Homo sapiens: one gene and its partner. The protein of the gene in region 2 interacts with the protein of the main gene of each other region in a biochemical or structural test. Each region holds a gene or a part of one and is shown on either strand. Other genes may lie near its edges.

Region 1 (7,035 bases), on a different chromosome or scaffold from region 2:
TCAAACAAGCCAATGGTCTAGTAGAAAGTGTGGCATATTATTATATTATTGGGTATAAATCATAATTTAAAGAATAACTCACATTATTCCTTCTCTTAAATTCTGAATTGAGCCTCTCGTAAGTCTCATAAGTCATCTCTATCCCTGCAAATTCATTTTGCCAGGTCTCCCAAGGAATAGAAAAGTCATTTGTTGATAATGAAGATACACTTTCAGACACTAAAAAATGAAAACAATCTGCTGAAGTTAAAATATGCATTACTCTAAATTTAGCCTTGTAATTAGGCTAAGAACAAAATCTATCTTATTTTCCGAATCTATGTGTAACCTAAGGATTATGAAATCAAAGGCAGAAGAGTTCCTTATGTTTTTTTTAATTTAAAAATCAGATTATTCTGATTTATAAAACAAACTTTTTGGTATGGCTATTACAGCAGAAATGACTACTTTAAGCTGGAACATTTATGGATTATTTTTAACTGCTTTTTAACTAGTTCCACATTATTATTAGGTATTTAGTGAGGTACTAGCACATCAGTAAATTCATACTCTAGTTAACCTAAATGTGATAGTAAGTGACAGAATGATGAGGGAGATCTATGGGCATCTAAGACCCTTACTACAACAATTATTCATATAAATGTGAACTTTGCAATAAAGCATCATCCATCTTGGACATATCCAAAGTTGTCTTTACAAATTTGTTTTGTAAATAGACTCATTCAAAATATAAGAACCACCCTCCAAATAACTGCATTTTGATACAGGCTACTGATCTACCTACTTTTGTGGATATGATGATCTGCATCTTCAATTTTACACAGTTTTTTGGGAAGCAAGTTTGCTCTCCTTTCTCCTTTCTCTTCCATTTCTACTTCATTGGAATTACTTAGATTATCTTCTATATATATTCTTTTGCGACTAAGATGTTGGGTGGGGCCTTAGGAACAGTTAAAGAAAGTTAAAAGCGCTGCAATTTTCATTAAAAATACCTCATATTTTCTTGCTTTTATTTTAAAAAGGCTTTGTTTCCACTAAGTATTTTTATTATGTTTTAGGTAATTATGCATTCAATTCTACCTAGTTTATTTTCTTTTTACATTAAGTTGAATAACGGTATGACTTAAAATACATAATTCCTTTAGTTGAAATGTCACGTAGCATTTCAGTAATCATTTTTTAAAAAGCAAGACTATGACTACAAACCTGATACATGAGTAGCATCACAGGGCATGTCAAACCACGTTTTCTCTCTTCCTTCACTAGACTTGGATAATGAAGATGCTAAATGACTTTCCTAAAATACGTATTAGAAATTAGAAAAAAATTCCGTAAATATATTTCAATTCACATTTTATCACCTTTCTCAAACCCAAAAACCAATAATTTTAAATGCTGTCAATTCTTTCTCAGATTGTTTCTATCCCTTCCTTTTCATCTCTAATATTTACCATGTGTTAACCTTGATTCTAAGTTGACCTCAATCTTCTTGTAATAGCTGTGATGTGAGCTACTTTTTTTTCTATTCCTGCTTTTCATTTCTTTATTAGGATTTCCATTTCTTTGAGTCAGGAAATGAGGAGCCACAGAAAACTAAAGTTTAAACTACTCGTCTTTCAAACCACATCTTTCACATCTAACCTTATGTTATACTATTTGAATATACAGGTTTTACTTAGTAACCTTTACATAGGTTACTGATTTTTCTCCACTTAATCTACATATACCTACCCATCCACTTAGGTCTAGCTCAAATCGCAGCCCTCTCCAAGTTGTAAAATTCTGTCTTGATTTTCTATATTTTACAGGTTACTAAAATATTTTTATTGATGGATGGATGGGCTTTTATGCTGGCAGGAAGTTCAACCAAATACCTATATATTCACGAAACCAGAAAGTGCCTATTGTAAATATGCAATCCGGGGTTCAGCAGTGGTATCCTCACTATTTAAGACCTTACTACTCTCATTTTAAAAGTTTCAACTTTCTTCTATCAAAAAATATTTTTCTATGATCAAGCCATTCTATATACTTTAAACATCAGATTTTCAGGTAATAACAGTTGAAAAGCATTAAAATATTATAATTACCACTAAAGGTCAGTAATCTGAGTCTTATAAGAACCATCTTAGTGTAAGGAAAATTTATAAGTTATAGTCCCACACTTACCTCTCTTTTGCTTTGTATATAATTTTCATTGATATGTGGAGATTCAATTTCCATAAACCGTTCTTCTGAACTATAACTGCTTACATCTGAATAGCTGTTACTGTTTTGTGTTTCTTGTGTAAGTACCAGAGAACTTATTTTTTTTCTATTTACAATAGTATTACTCTTAGTTGGAGTATGTCTGGGCTATGAATGAAGACATACAAAAACCCAATAAGAAGTTACAAAATTGTTCAAAGCCCCCCACTTCAAAAAGAGTTGAACATAAGAAACATTAAAGCAAAACTGCAAAACTACTAATTCACTGCAAAAATTCAATTCCAATTCATAACTAAAAATAAAAAATCCTTAGGCAAGTGGATTATTACTTTGATGACCAAAACCTGTAGATAAGGATCCCTGCTAGTACAGTTTCTATGCTCCAGAGGTCAAAGTCACCTTAACAAGAACACGAATAAGAATTTTTTGCATTTTCTGTTCTAATCTTCATGTGTAACAGTTTATATGGCTGTCTATACAGAAAAGCCAAGAGAATCTAGGCAGACAATCATGATAAAATTCAGCAAGGTTGTTGGAGATAAAACAATCAATAGTTTTTCTATATAAAAATTTTAAAACTCAGAAAATGTAATTTTTAAAAAAAGTCTTTTTTTTAATACAGCAAAAAGAAGACCCATAAAATACTTAAGAATTAATCTAACAAGATGCATAATTTCCTTTGTAGGAGACTTCACCCAACTTTGCAGGAAATAAGACAAAAAAGTGGAGAGAGAAATCATGTGTAGATAAGAAAGATCAACATCAATATTGAAAAATGGCAATTCTTCCCTTAGACAAACTAATTCTAAAATGTATATGAATCAGTAAAGGGCAAAGGAATTCTGAGGAATGGTGGGGCAGGGGGTATGTAACACCCTATAAATGTAAAATGACCCCAATTAAAGCAATGCTGGTATTAGCACAGAGATAGATAAACAGGCCAGTAAACAGTAAAATCTAATGGTGCCTAATCCAGGCCCATGTGATCACCCAGCCTATGACTAAATTAAGACTATTCCACTCCTGATGTCGCACTAATTTGATATCCATATGAAAAAGAAAGCCTGGAGAGACTCAAATCTAAAATTTGAGTCAAATTTAGACTCAAATCTAAAATAAGAAAATATTTTTATGACAATAGCTTAGGGGAAGATTTCTTAAACAACCCAGAAGATTGGTAAATTTGATTATGTCCTATCTTTTGTCATAGGGAAGTTGTGTAATTAACTGAAAATATACATACTAGGAAAAGAATGTTTACATTATATACAACGAATAAAGAATATCCAGAATATATTAAGAACTCATACAAATTTGTAAGAAAAATCAAGCAATGCAATTTAAAAATAAGAAAACAAACAGGAAATTCACAAAATGGCCAAAATCATGTGAAAATACTCATTGATGCAATGAGTCAGGAAAATGCAAATTAAAGACACAACTTTATGCTTACCAGACTGGCAAAAACAGAAACAACTGATAACATCTACTTAGTTAAAACTGTAGAGAAATGAGCACTATCTCATAGCAGTGTTGAGAGTGTAAGTAGGTTCAACTACCATATAAAGCAAATTTCCAACACCTTATTAAGAGTTGACAGTAAAGGGGCAGCATGGGGGAATGTCTCATGAGTGTCCAGCCAATGAATATGTAACTGTTAAAATTCCATCTAACACAGAGTAGCATCAAAGATGGTGGGTGGGGATTACCTAGGCTTGGAGATTTTGCAAGGTGGCATACTGAAGGGATTAAAGGATGCGGGGGAAAATAAGAATGACAGAAACAAAGGGATTGGTTCTAGGACCTCTTGTGGATATCAAAATCAGAAGATGCTCAAATCTGTGATATAAAATGGTTCAGTATTTGCATATAACCTATACACATCCTCCCATATACATAAGTAATCTCTAGATTACTTATGATACCTAATACAATGTAAATACTCTTAAATAGTTGTTATATGTGTTGTTTAGGAAATGGTGACAAGAAAAAAAAGTCTGTACATGTTCAATACAGACACAATTAAAAATATATATTGTTGTCTGTGGTTGAATCCACAGATGTGGAACCCACAGATATGGAGGGCCAACTATATTGATAAAGGATCACAGGAGAATTTGTGTGAATTTCACTAGTGTGAAACTGGGTTTCAAATTGTGGTCTGTAGAAACTCAGAGTTTTGAAAATATGCCTTGGGGATTATTTGGGAGAAGGAGGTGAAGGAGGCTAGGTAGATCTAGGGTTTAGATCTCCTACCTCTACTTTAAACAGCATAGTTCTACTTTTATCTTTCTGACACACAATGGTCCCTCTTAGCTGCAGTTTTGCTTTCCAGGGTTTCAATAACTCATGCTCAACCATGGCCCAAAAATATTAAATGGAACATTCCAGAAATCATTTATAAGTTTCAAATTGTGCACAATTCTGTGTGGTGCCATGAAATCTCTGGCCATCGGGTTGTCCTGCCTGGGATATGAATCATCACTTTGTCCAGCATATCCATGCTGTATATGCTACCTGCCTGTTAGTCAAGTAATAGCCATCTCAGTTATCAGATTGACTGTGGAGATATCGTAGTGCTCAAGCAACCCTTATTTTACTAAATAATGCCCCTCAAAAGCAAGAGTAGTGATGCTGTAGTGTATTGTTATAGTTGTTGTTTTGTCATTGTAATAATTTATAAATTGCATATTTATAAGTTAATGTTTAAATTAAACAATCATAGGTATGTATGTATAGGAAAAAAAGATAGTATATATAGCATTCAGTGCTATCCTCCATTTCAGGCATCTATTGGGGGGGTCTTGGAACGTATTCCCTGAGAATAAGGGGTGATTACTGTACAGAGTACAGGTAAGAGTTTTGTAACAGGAATGATCACTTCCTAAGAGATACTACTAATTGTTCTACACATTAGAACTACACACATTTTCTAGATCTGAATAGGCTTATTCCTGCAATGCAGGTACTTCTTTCAGATTTCACCATAATTTAAAGTCTATGGCCTTTAATAAACTTTAGTTACAAAAATTACAAGTTGACAAAGTAAATTGATAATTTAGTTGAAAACAGTGTAATTACAATATTTGGTTTAGGTGTTTATAAGGAAGTTTAACAGGTAAATGGTAGGAATATAAAAAGTAAATATATATTGAAAAGAAATTCTTCATTCTTCCTCATCTATGTATCACATTATATGTATCATTTCTTCTTAAAATATAGTAGACCCTCCTGAAATCACAGATAGTACCTCACCCTATTATACTATGCACAGATTTCTTTTTCCTAATTTCATGGAAAGATGATTCATTCTTACCATAGATCTTAGCAACTTCCACATACCTTATTTTTGGTTCCTTATTAAGCACAGAATATTCACCATTTCACTTAAAGGAAAACTTTATGGCTTCTCTTTGGCCTATCTGAATTGTCAGCATCAATACTCTTGCCCTTTGGCGGTATTGTTAAGTAAAATAAGGGTTACTTTAACACAAGCACTGCAATACCTCTACAGTTGATCTGATAACCAAGATGGCTACTATGTGACTAACAGGCAGGTAGGGTATACAGCAGCATGGATACTCTGGACAAAGGGTTGATTCACGTCCCAGGAGGGACAGAGTGGATGGCTCAATATTTCATCACACTATTCAGAATTACACACAATGTAAAACATATGAATTGTTTATTTCTGCAATTTCTTATTTAATATTATCAGACCACAGTTGACTGTAGGTAACTGAAACCTCAAAAAGTGAAACCACAAATAATGAGAAACTACTGTACTCTCCTGCTACCACATTCTTCCTCCTGTATAGCTATACATTTATTTGTCTGTTAGGTTCATCAAGACTGGCAAGTATCTCTCTCTTGTCATTATGTCCCTCTCCCCCAAGACCCTAGACCAAACCCAAAACCTTAAATAGACAAGCAATGTGTATCTGATTAAGATGATAGGGAAAATAACTTACTACCTTCAGATATATCTGATAAAGAGAAAAATATATATACATTCTCACCAAAAACAGTGGTCGTGGAATTGGTGAACAACTTTCACTTGCACACAGGAAGTTTTTCTCATTGTTTTTGGGTGACTTTATTGTACCTCCAACTCCACTGTTACTATTTAAGGATTCAAGTGATGAAGTTTTTGGATAAGGTGATATAGATTTTGTTATGCAGTCATAATCCTGAGTAAAATCCTTTTCTGTTATTTTCTCTATACCTATATTGCATCAAAATAAAAAAGAAAATAGATGGCAAGCGTTATCATTGATGTCTGCTTTAGAAATAGCACGATTAATTTAAATTCTAAGAATTTGTCAGATCTTCAAATCTTAGCTATAAAAAAGGATAGCTTTAAAAATATTAAGACCAAGTTATATTTAAAATATTTGTAAGACTGAAAAACAAAATGGCTGAATTTAAAATGTACTTGTAACCACAAGAACTTTCAAAACATTTTCCAACAAAAATATCTACAGTATGACCTGAAATATAAGGATCAACCTAAGTATTATCTTGAGTATTCTGACATCATAGCTGATTGTGTTATATATACACATCACAAAATTTTATGATTGAAAAAGGCTTGAGAAATCATCTGCTCTACATCTTTCACATAAAAATTAGAAAATTTACTGCTGGAATAAATCTTAATATAAATAAATCCTCAGACAATTTTCAGATCGAATCAGGGCATGTACATCTATCTCCTGAGTATGCGCTTATGTGAAATTTCATAGTGGTCCTTAGTACTGAGAACACAATAGCTACTTTAGAGGAAGCAGAAGTATACTAACTGATTTAAGTCTTGTATTTTAACTG
Region 2 (7,035 bases):
GCACTTTGGGAGGCTGAGGCGGACGGATCACCTGAGGTCGGGAGTTCAAGACCACCCTGACCAACATGGAGAAACCCTGTCTCTACTAAAAATACAAAATTAGCTGGGTGTGGTGGCACATGCCTGTAATCCCAGCTACTCAGGAGGCTGAGGCGGGAGAATCACTTGAACCCAGGAGAAAGAAGGTTACCGTGAGCTGAGATTGTGCCATTGCACTCAGGCCTGCTGGGCAACAAGAGGAAACTCTGTCTCAAAAAAAAAAAAAAAAAAAAAAAAAAGAAAAGAAAAAGAAAGTGAAAAGATGAGCCACAAACATGAAAAAAATATTGCAACATAAATGAGTGAAAAAGAATTATTACTAAGCACATATTTTTTAAACCATTGAGGAAAAGATAAATAACCTGAGAGACAAATGCATGAAAGACATGAACAGCTATTTAATATGAGCAAAATAGGATGGCCAAAGAAAAGATGCACAAACACACAAATAATCAGAGAAATTCAAATTAACATCATGAGGCATTACCATTTCATATCTAGCAGACTGGCAGGAAACATAAACCCTGACAATAAGTGTTGGCAAGAATGTAGGGTACTCTCCTTCACTGGGGGTAGCGAGTAAGTTGGTACGACCACTTTGGAAAACAGTTTTGCTTTACCTAATATAGTTGAAAATACACAAGCCTAGAACTGTTTCATATATTCCCAAGAGACACTCTTTGACAGGTGTACCAGGAGGTATGTACATGAATGTTTATAGCAATTAAAAAGAATGTCTATCAAGAGTAGAAAACTCTACAGCAGTGAAAATGAAAGAACAATAACACAATGGCTAAATCTCAACTTTGAAGTTCAAGCAAAAGAAAATTAAAGGAGAATACTCAGAGTATGATTACTTTGATATACAAATTTAAAACGAGTAGATGTACTCATCCATGGCAAAACTATAAAGAAGAGCAAGGAAAGGTTATCATGAAGGTCAGGAGAGTGGTTACCTTCAGAGGGCGTGCAATGAGGAAGGGACACGTGGTGGCTTCTAAGGGAGTAGCAATGTTCTACATCTTAGCCTAAATGGAGGACATATGGATGTTCTCATTATTCTTTAAACTGTACATATTTTTATGTAGTCTATTATATGTATATCTCAAAATAAAATTTTTAAAAGAAATAAAGATTCTACATATGTATACACATGTATGTATGTGTGTGTGTGTGTGTGTGTGTGTGTGTGTGTGTGTTCCATGTATTCCATGAAGGAAAACAAAAAGGAATCCTTAGTGGGAAAGTGACAGTAACCACTTTACTAGACTTACTAAATTCTCTCATATGTTTGGCTGGCTGAGAGAGAAACTTCAATCAACTAAGTTTACCACAAAGTCCATATAATACATATAGTTTCAACTAAATGTATGCTTGAGAAGGATTATCACATTTCTTATTTAATCTATTAGTTGAACTATGCGTTCTTAGGTTGTCCTGCTTTCATTTGATTAAAAAAAAAAAAGAAAGAAATTCTTAATTAAAAGGTAAAAATCTAACCAGGTGTGGTGTAATCCTAGCACTTTGAGAGGCCAAGGCAGGAGGATCACTGGAGCCCAGGAGTTCAAGATCAGCCTGGACAACATAGGGAGACCCTGTCTCTAAAAAAAATAAAAAATAAGCTGGGTGTGGTGGCGCACACCTATGGTTTCAGCTACACTGGAGGCTGAGCTGAAAGGATTACTTGGGCCCAGAAGGTCAAGGCTGCAGTGAGCTGTGATCAACTACTGCACTCCAGCACTCAAGCCTGGACAACAGAGCAAGACTCTTTCCCTAAATAAATAAATAAATAAATAAATAAATAAATAAATACCTAGCTGAGGCCCAGTGTGGTGTCTCATACCTGTAATCCCAGCACTTTGGGAGGTCAAAGTGAAAGGATTGCTTGAGCCCAGGAGTTTAAGACCAGCCCTGGTAACAGTGAGACCCTTGTCTCTACAAAAAATTAAAAAATAAAAAATTAGCCAGGTGTGGTGGCATGTGCCTATAGTCCCAGCTACTCGAGAGGCTGAGGTAGGAGGATTCCTTGGCAAGCTGAGGCACCAGTGAGTCATGGTTGCACCACTGTACTTCAGCCTGGGCAACAGAGCGAGACCCTGTCTCAAAAACAACAAGAACAACAACAAAAAAAACTAGCTGAAACATTCTTTTCTTAACCTTCATTTTTTTTCCCCTTTCTATGTTAGCTATATCTTCCTTGGGTGAAATTGGAAGAGGAAAATTGCACCAAAATCCAAAGTCATTTTTATGTCTAACATCGAGAAAGCACTAAAAATTTAAAAACAATCTGTTACTTGTTTGGTTATATTATTTACATTAATTGAATTAAAACTAGAACAACTAGAACCTCTTTTCAATGTATTAAACATAATACAGAGTTAAAGAACTAGAAGGAACCTTCAGAAGTTACCTAGTACAGTCACCTATCTTTAAATAAGACTCAAATTATCTTAAGCAAACAAGTTATCATTCTAATCTTAAAATATCTCCTGAAAAGATCTTATAGCATCCCTTCCTACTGAAAATTTTTTGTCTAACTCAGAACCCTTTTAACACAATGTTGTCATACAGTTAACATTATTATCCAGACAACCACCAGTTAAGGGTGTGGAGTTACCTAGGGCATAATGGGACCCTAGCAAGAATCTAACTCCAAGTCTCTATTGGTGGAAATGGGAGGATAAAGGGATCAGAGACCTGACTGTTTGGCTCCACTAGCTCCAACCCCACCAACCCCCTGACTTTCCCCAGTGAGTTAGCCCCAAAGCTTGTCTTCCTCCACATAACCAGAAGTTAACTATTATTTGTTTTCACGCTGACTCGGGTTTATCCATAAAATTTATCTTCCCCAACTCCTCCCATCCAATTATCTCAGTATCAAGAACTGATTTATACTTCCAATGAGTATGAATAAATACCTAGAATATTTTTCAACCCTAAAATTATGTCATTTACAAATAAAGGAAAGAAAACCTCAAATTTTCTAAATTTATGATATCTTTAATAAAATAAATATATTAGAAAATCTTTTTCCTCCTAGTTATGGACAATTTCATCTGATAAAGTATATTTCCTTTTAGAAGATTAAACTTTTTTAGATTAAAAACTCCTTGATGTCAGAGACTAGTTTTGTTTCAGTTTTTATAGCTGGCACACTCCACGTGCATGCCCTGGGTAGAAACTGAAAAATATCAATTGTGTTTAACTGACACGATAGAAAATCTCTAAAGCTTTGCCTTACATGGTCATTGCATTCTTCTTCCTCATCACAGTCTAGACCCTGATGGGCGATCTCAGTAGTGCTGTTCTCCCGAAACAGATTGTTCTCCAAATCAATCACTTTTGTAGCCTCTGTCATGACTTTTACTTTCATGCTATGAAAGCCAGTGGAGACAAATCCCACTTGCACGTTGATAGGCTCCTTGTCAAACAGCAGGAAGTGTGAATTTACCCCTTCTTTAAAACCGAGGGGTTGGTAATCATGTGGGGTCACTGCGAAATGAAAAGGGCAAAAAGCCATGAAAACTGAGTTTCAATACAACAAATCCGATTAATCTTTCATGTGTAGCAACAGACTTCTCTTTCAGATGCCTGCAAAATCCTTTTACTTATAGAAAATATTAGCTCAGCACTTAAGGAGGAATTTGCCTAAAGTTCTCTACCTACCTGCATTATAGTAGTGGAGTTTCATAGTAAGTACAACATTATTAGGAAGTGGCTCAAGGTCCTGCATCAGTATATACAATTTACGGATCAGTAGAACACTGGCTTTCTTAATATCTTCATTGTTTGTTCCACTTTCAAAGCTTGTACTGCTGCTATGACTACACAGAAAAAAAAGCATACTTTTTGATCATATACAATAGTGGCAATCTATCCCAAAAGGAACAAAACTTTTGACTATGTGAGTAAATATAAATTAAACATTAGTATATTTTGAGACTTTTTTAGAATGTAAATTAGGGGAGCGATGGTACTTTTTGCAATGTATATACAAAGAATTTCTTAAGTAGCAAATTCCCTAAAAGCATTTAAAATACGATCTTTTTAAAAATTTGATTTGAAAAAAATCATATACCACAACAGTAAGAACAACGAATTTGGAATTAGGTGACCTGGCATCTAATATCAGCTCTGCTGATAACTAGCTGAATGACCTTGGTCAAGTCATTTAGACACACTCTAGGTCAGTTAGCTCATTTGTGAGATAAGCGTAAAGACATTTCTACAACTCTCAAGCATAAAATCAATCACCAGCTCTGGGACTTTCTACCGTCTGATTATCTCGCAAAAGTATCCCTTCCTCACTCTTGCATTGATTACTACAGTGGCTATCTAACTATTTTTCCTGCTTTCCTTCTTGTCCACACTACAAAATATTCTCCATATCACCGCTGAAATAATATTACTAATAGGAAAATCTGTTCATGTCACCTTCTTACTTAGAATTCTTCTATTATATCCATCAGTTTTCAATCAAATTCAAAGACAGTGTGTATACAATTCCTTTCACAACCCGTCATATCCTCACCTCCATCCTCATCTGCAGCTATTGCCCAGTTTCCTCTCACTCAAAGTATTTGCATATGCTGTTCACTTTGCTTGTACTGTGCTTTTCCACTTTTCTTCCTGACTGTCCTAAATTTATCCTCTAATACCTAGCTCATGCGCAGACTCTTCAAAGAAGTCTTCTCTGATAATACCCTCATCTCATCCTCAGGATAACTATTTGTCCTTCTCTAGACTGTGAGTGGCTATATCTTTCATCTCCACAGTACAGAGTTTGGTGCCCAGCTATTCAATCAACATTTGTTGAATTAATGAATGAATGAACAATTTGGACTAAATTACCTTCCAATTCTAAACTTTGTTCATTTATCTCCAAAGTTTCCTTCCACAATTAGTCTCACATTTGAGTAGTTTCCAGGAGGGACCATGACTATAATATATTTACACATGGCTGTGCACATAGTTAGCTCTTAATATGAAAAATAACCCTAAGTAATTGAAATGTTGGATTTTTCCCTAACTGATCTTTGGAGACAGTGTGAATTCATGAAGCAAACATTTATTAAGTGAATACATTAGCTCCTTTTCCAATTTTGAACAACTTAAAATTCTGCCAACCAGGATTTAACCAATTCAAATGTAGGTAACCAGAATGAAGGGCTATAGATATGTAGCTCATGGGAGCCTCCAGGACACATCAGTAAAATCATATTCAGGACTCCCATTTAAACAAATGCCTATATTTCTTCTCTAGGAAATTAATAATATGCATCACCTTCTCTCCTTAGCATGTGAAAGATTTGGCCATTTTTGTTTTACAGCTTACCTCTTGGCATATGTGCCTTCAGAACAAAAGAGTTTAATCTGGCCATCAGTGTATATTTTTGAGTTTTGGAGAGTAAAGGTAACTTTTTATGTGAGAAAACGTGTATGAAAAGTGCTGCTGTATAAGCTGTAAAGTATTATACAAATGTTAGCTAATAAAAGGTAATATTTTAATTCTCATTTTTGGAACTGATTTTCTCTTCACATTCTAGTGCTGTCTGTAGGTTTTACAAATGGAAGGATAATCAAGGGAGTGAATCTTGGAGAAAAGTCCTCAAGCTCATGGCAAATGATGAGCCAGAGCTAATAGTAGGGAAAATTGAAAATTAGGCCATGTCTCTCATCAGTCTTTCCTTTCAAGGGCATCCATCCCCCTTACTTGGATTCCTCTACTATCCAGAGCTTTTCACCATCATCTGTACCTTCCACTACTGTGCCATCTCATCAGCAATACTTAGCTCTCCATCCCCCCTGGCAGGTCTGAATCCAAAAGCTACTGGGAGAAAAATAAACGTTGCTCTTCAATGTCCTTGTGTTTGCTATTTAACCCATTAGTAACCTAAAACTTGGAATTTTCGACTTCATAAGGAAACTGCAGTGCTTTCTAATCTTTTCATACAAGGACACAAGGAAATGATATTTATATGACATACTGGGGTAAGCAAATGAGAATATTTGTGCATACGGGCAAATAGTCCAAGGGTATTATCTACCCTAGGCACAGGCTGGCTATATCGAGGTGGAAAGGATCGCTATCTAGGCATAGCAGTTGAGAAACTTTGAATTAATGGCTAGACAGAGCCTTATGGAGTTATTCAATCAATAGCGTGTAGGCAACCTTATTGACATAATTTCTACCTTTGTGCTGCATGCCATTTTCTCTATTCCCACCAGCTTAATCCATGGATTTCAGGAATGTAAACAATTGTTGCAGCCCCTTTTTATAATAGTGGTTTTCTGTAGGGTTTGTGGGGAAATGTGTAAAGAAGTATAAGGCCTTTCTCTGGCCTCAAGAAGCTTATGTTTACCTCAATCCTATTTATTTCTCATGTTCATTAAGCAGTTAGATTCTACCTGTCAAAATCCATAGTGGCTCCTTCTTTCGTGTATTTGAATTTGAACTGGTACATCTCAGTCACCTTCTACAAAAACCAAAGGAAATAAAGAAAAAAAAGAATTTAGAAAAGAAATCCAGAATCTTACCTGATCATAAGTAAGGAACATTTTCACTGTATATCTACTGTACTTCCTATATAGCTGTTTGTTTCACAGTATCACATTATTCAAGAGTAATATTTCCAAATATAAAGACAACCTAGTTTTTCTCCTCCATGCTAAAAATAAATTAGATGAAAGATACTATTATTACCATTTTAAAGCTGGAAAAACAAAATCACAGAGTCAAATATCTAACCAAACTAGGTAAACAACAGTGGAAACAGTTGAGAAACCATTCATTCATGTAACAAATATTGTATTGAATGTCTACTTTGTGCCAGTCACTGGAGTCACAGCGGTGAACAAGACAGAAAAGGTCCCTGTTTTTCTGGAATATACATACAATCCAGTAGGGGAAATAGTCAGTAAATAAGTAAACAAATGAAATAAGCTAATTCCGATAGTGTAAGTGCTGTGAACAAGAAGCAGATGCTGTGATAGAGA

The links. The genes of interacting proteins can lie anywhere in the genome.
Region 1: the proteins of HORMAD2 (region 2) and SYCP2 form a complex in vitro, tested with the Homo sapiens proteins (one study listed by BioGRID).

Annotation. Positions count from the first base shown.
Region 1 is NC_000020.11:59,867,629-59,874,663, forward strand, and holds part of SYCP2 (synaptonemal complex protein 2), read right to left. Parts: intron 6,434-7,035; coding exon 6,228-6,433; intron 2,356-6,227; coding exon 2,170-2,355; intron 1,298-2,169; coding exon 1,207-1,297; intron 941-1,206; coding exon 785-940; intron 220-784; coding exon 83-219; intron 1-82. UniProt on the Homo sapiens protein: Major component of the axial/lateral elements of synaptonemal complexes (SCS) during meiotic prophase. Plays a role in the assembly of synaptonemal complexes.
Region 2 is NC_000022.11:30,118,460-30,125,494, reverse strand, and holds part of HORMAD2 (HORMA domain-containing protein 2), read right to left. Parts: intron 6,740-7,035; exon of another isoform or gene 6,585-6,739; coding exon of another isoform or gene 6,577-6,584; intron 6,516-6,576; coding exon 6,448-6,515; intron 3,864-6,447; coding exon 3,706-3,863; intron 3,532-3,705; coding exon 3,281-3,531; intron 1-3,280.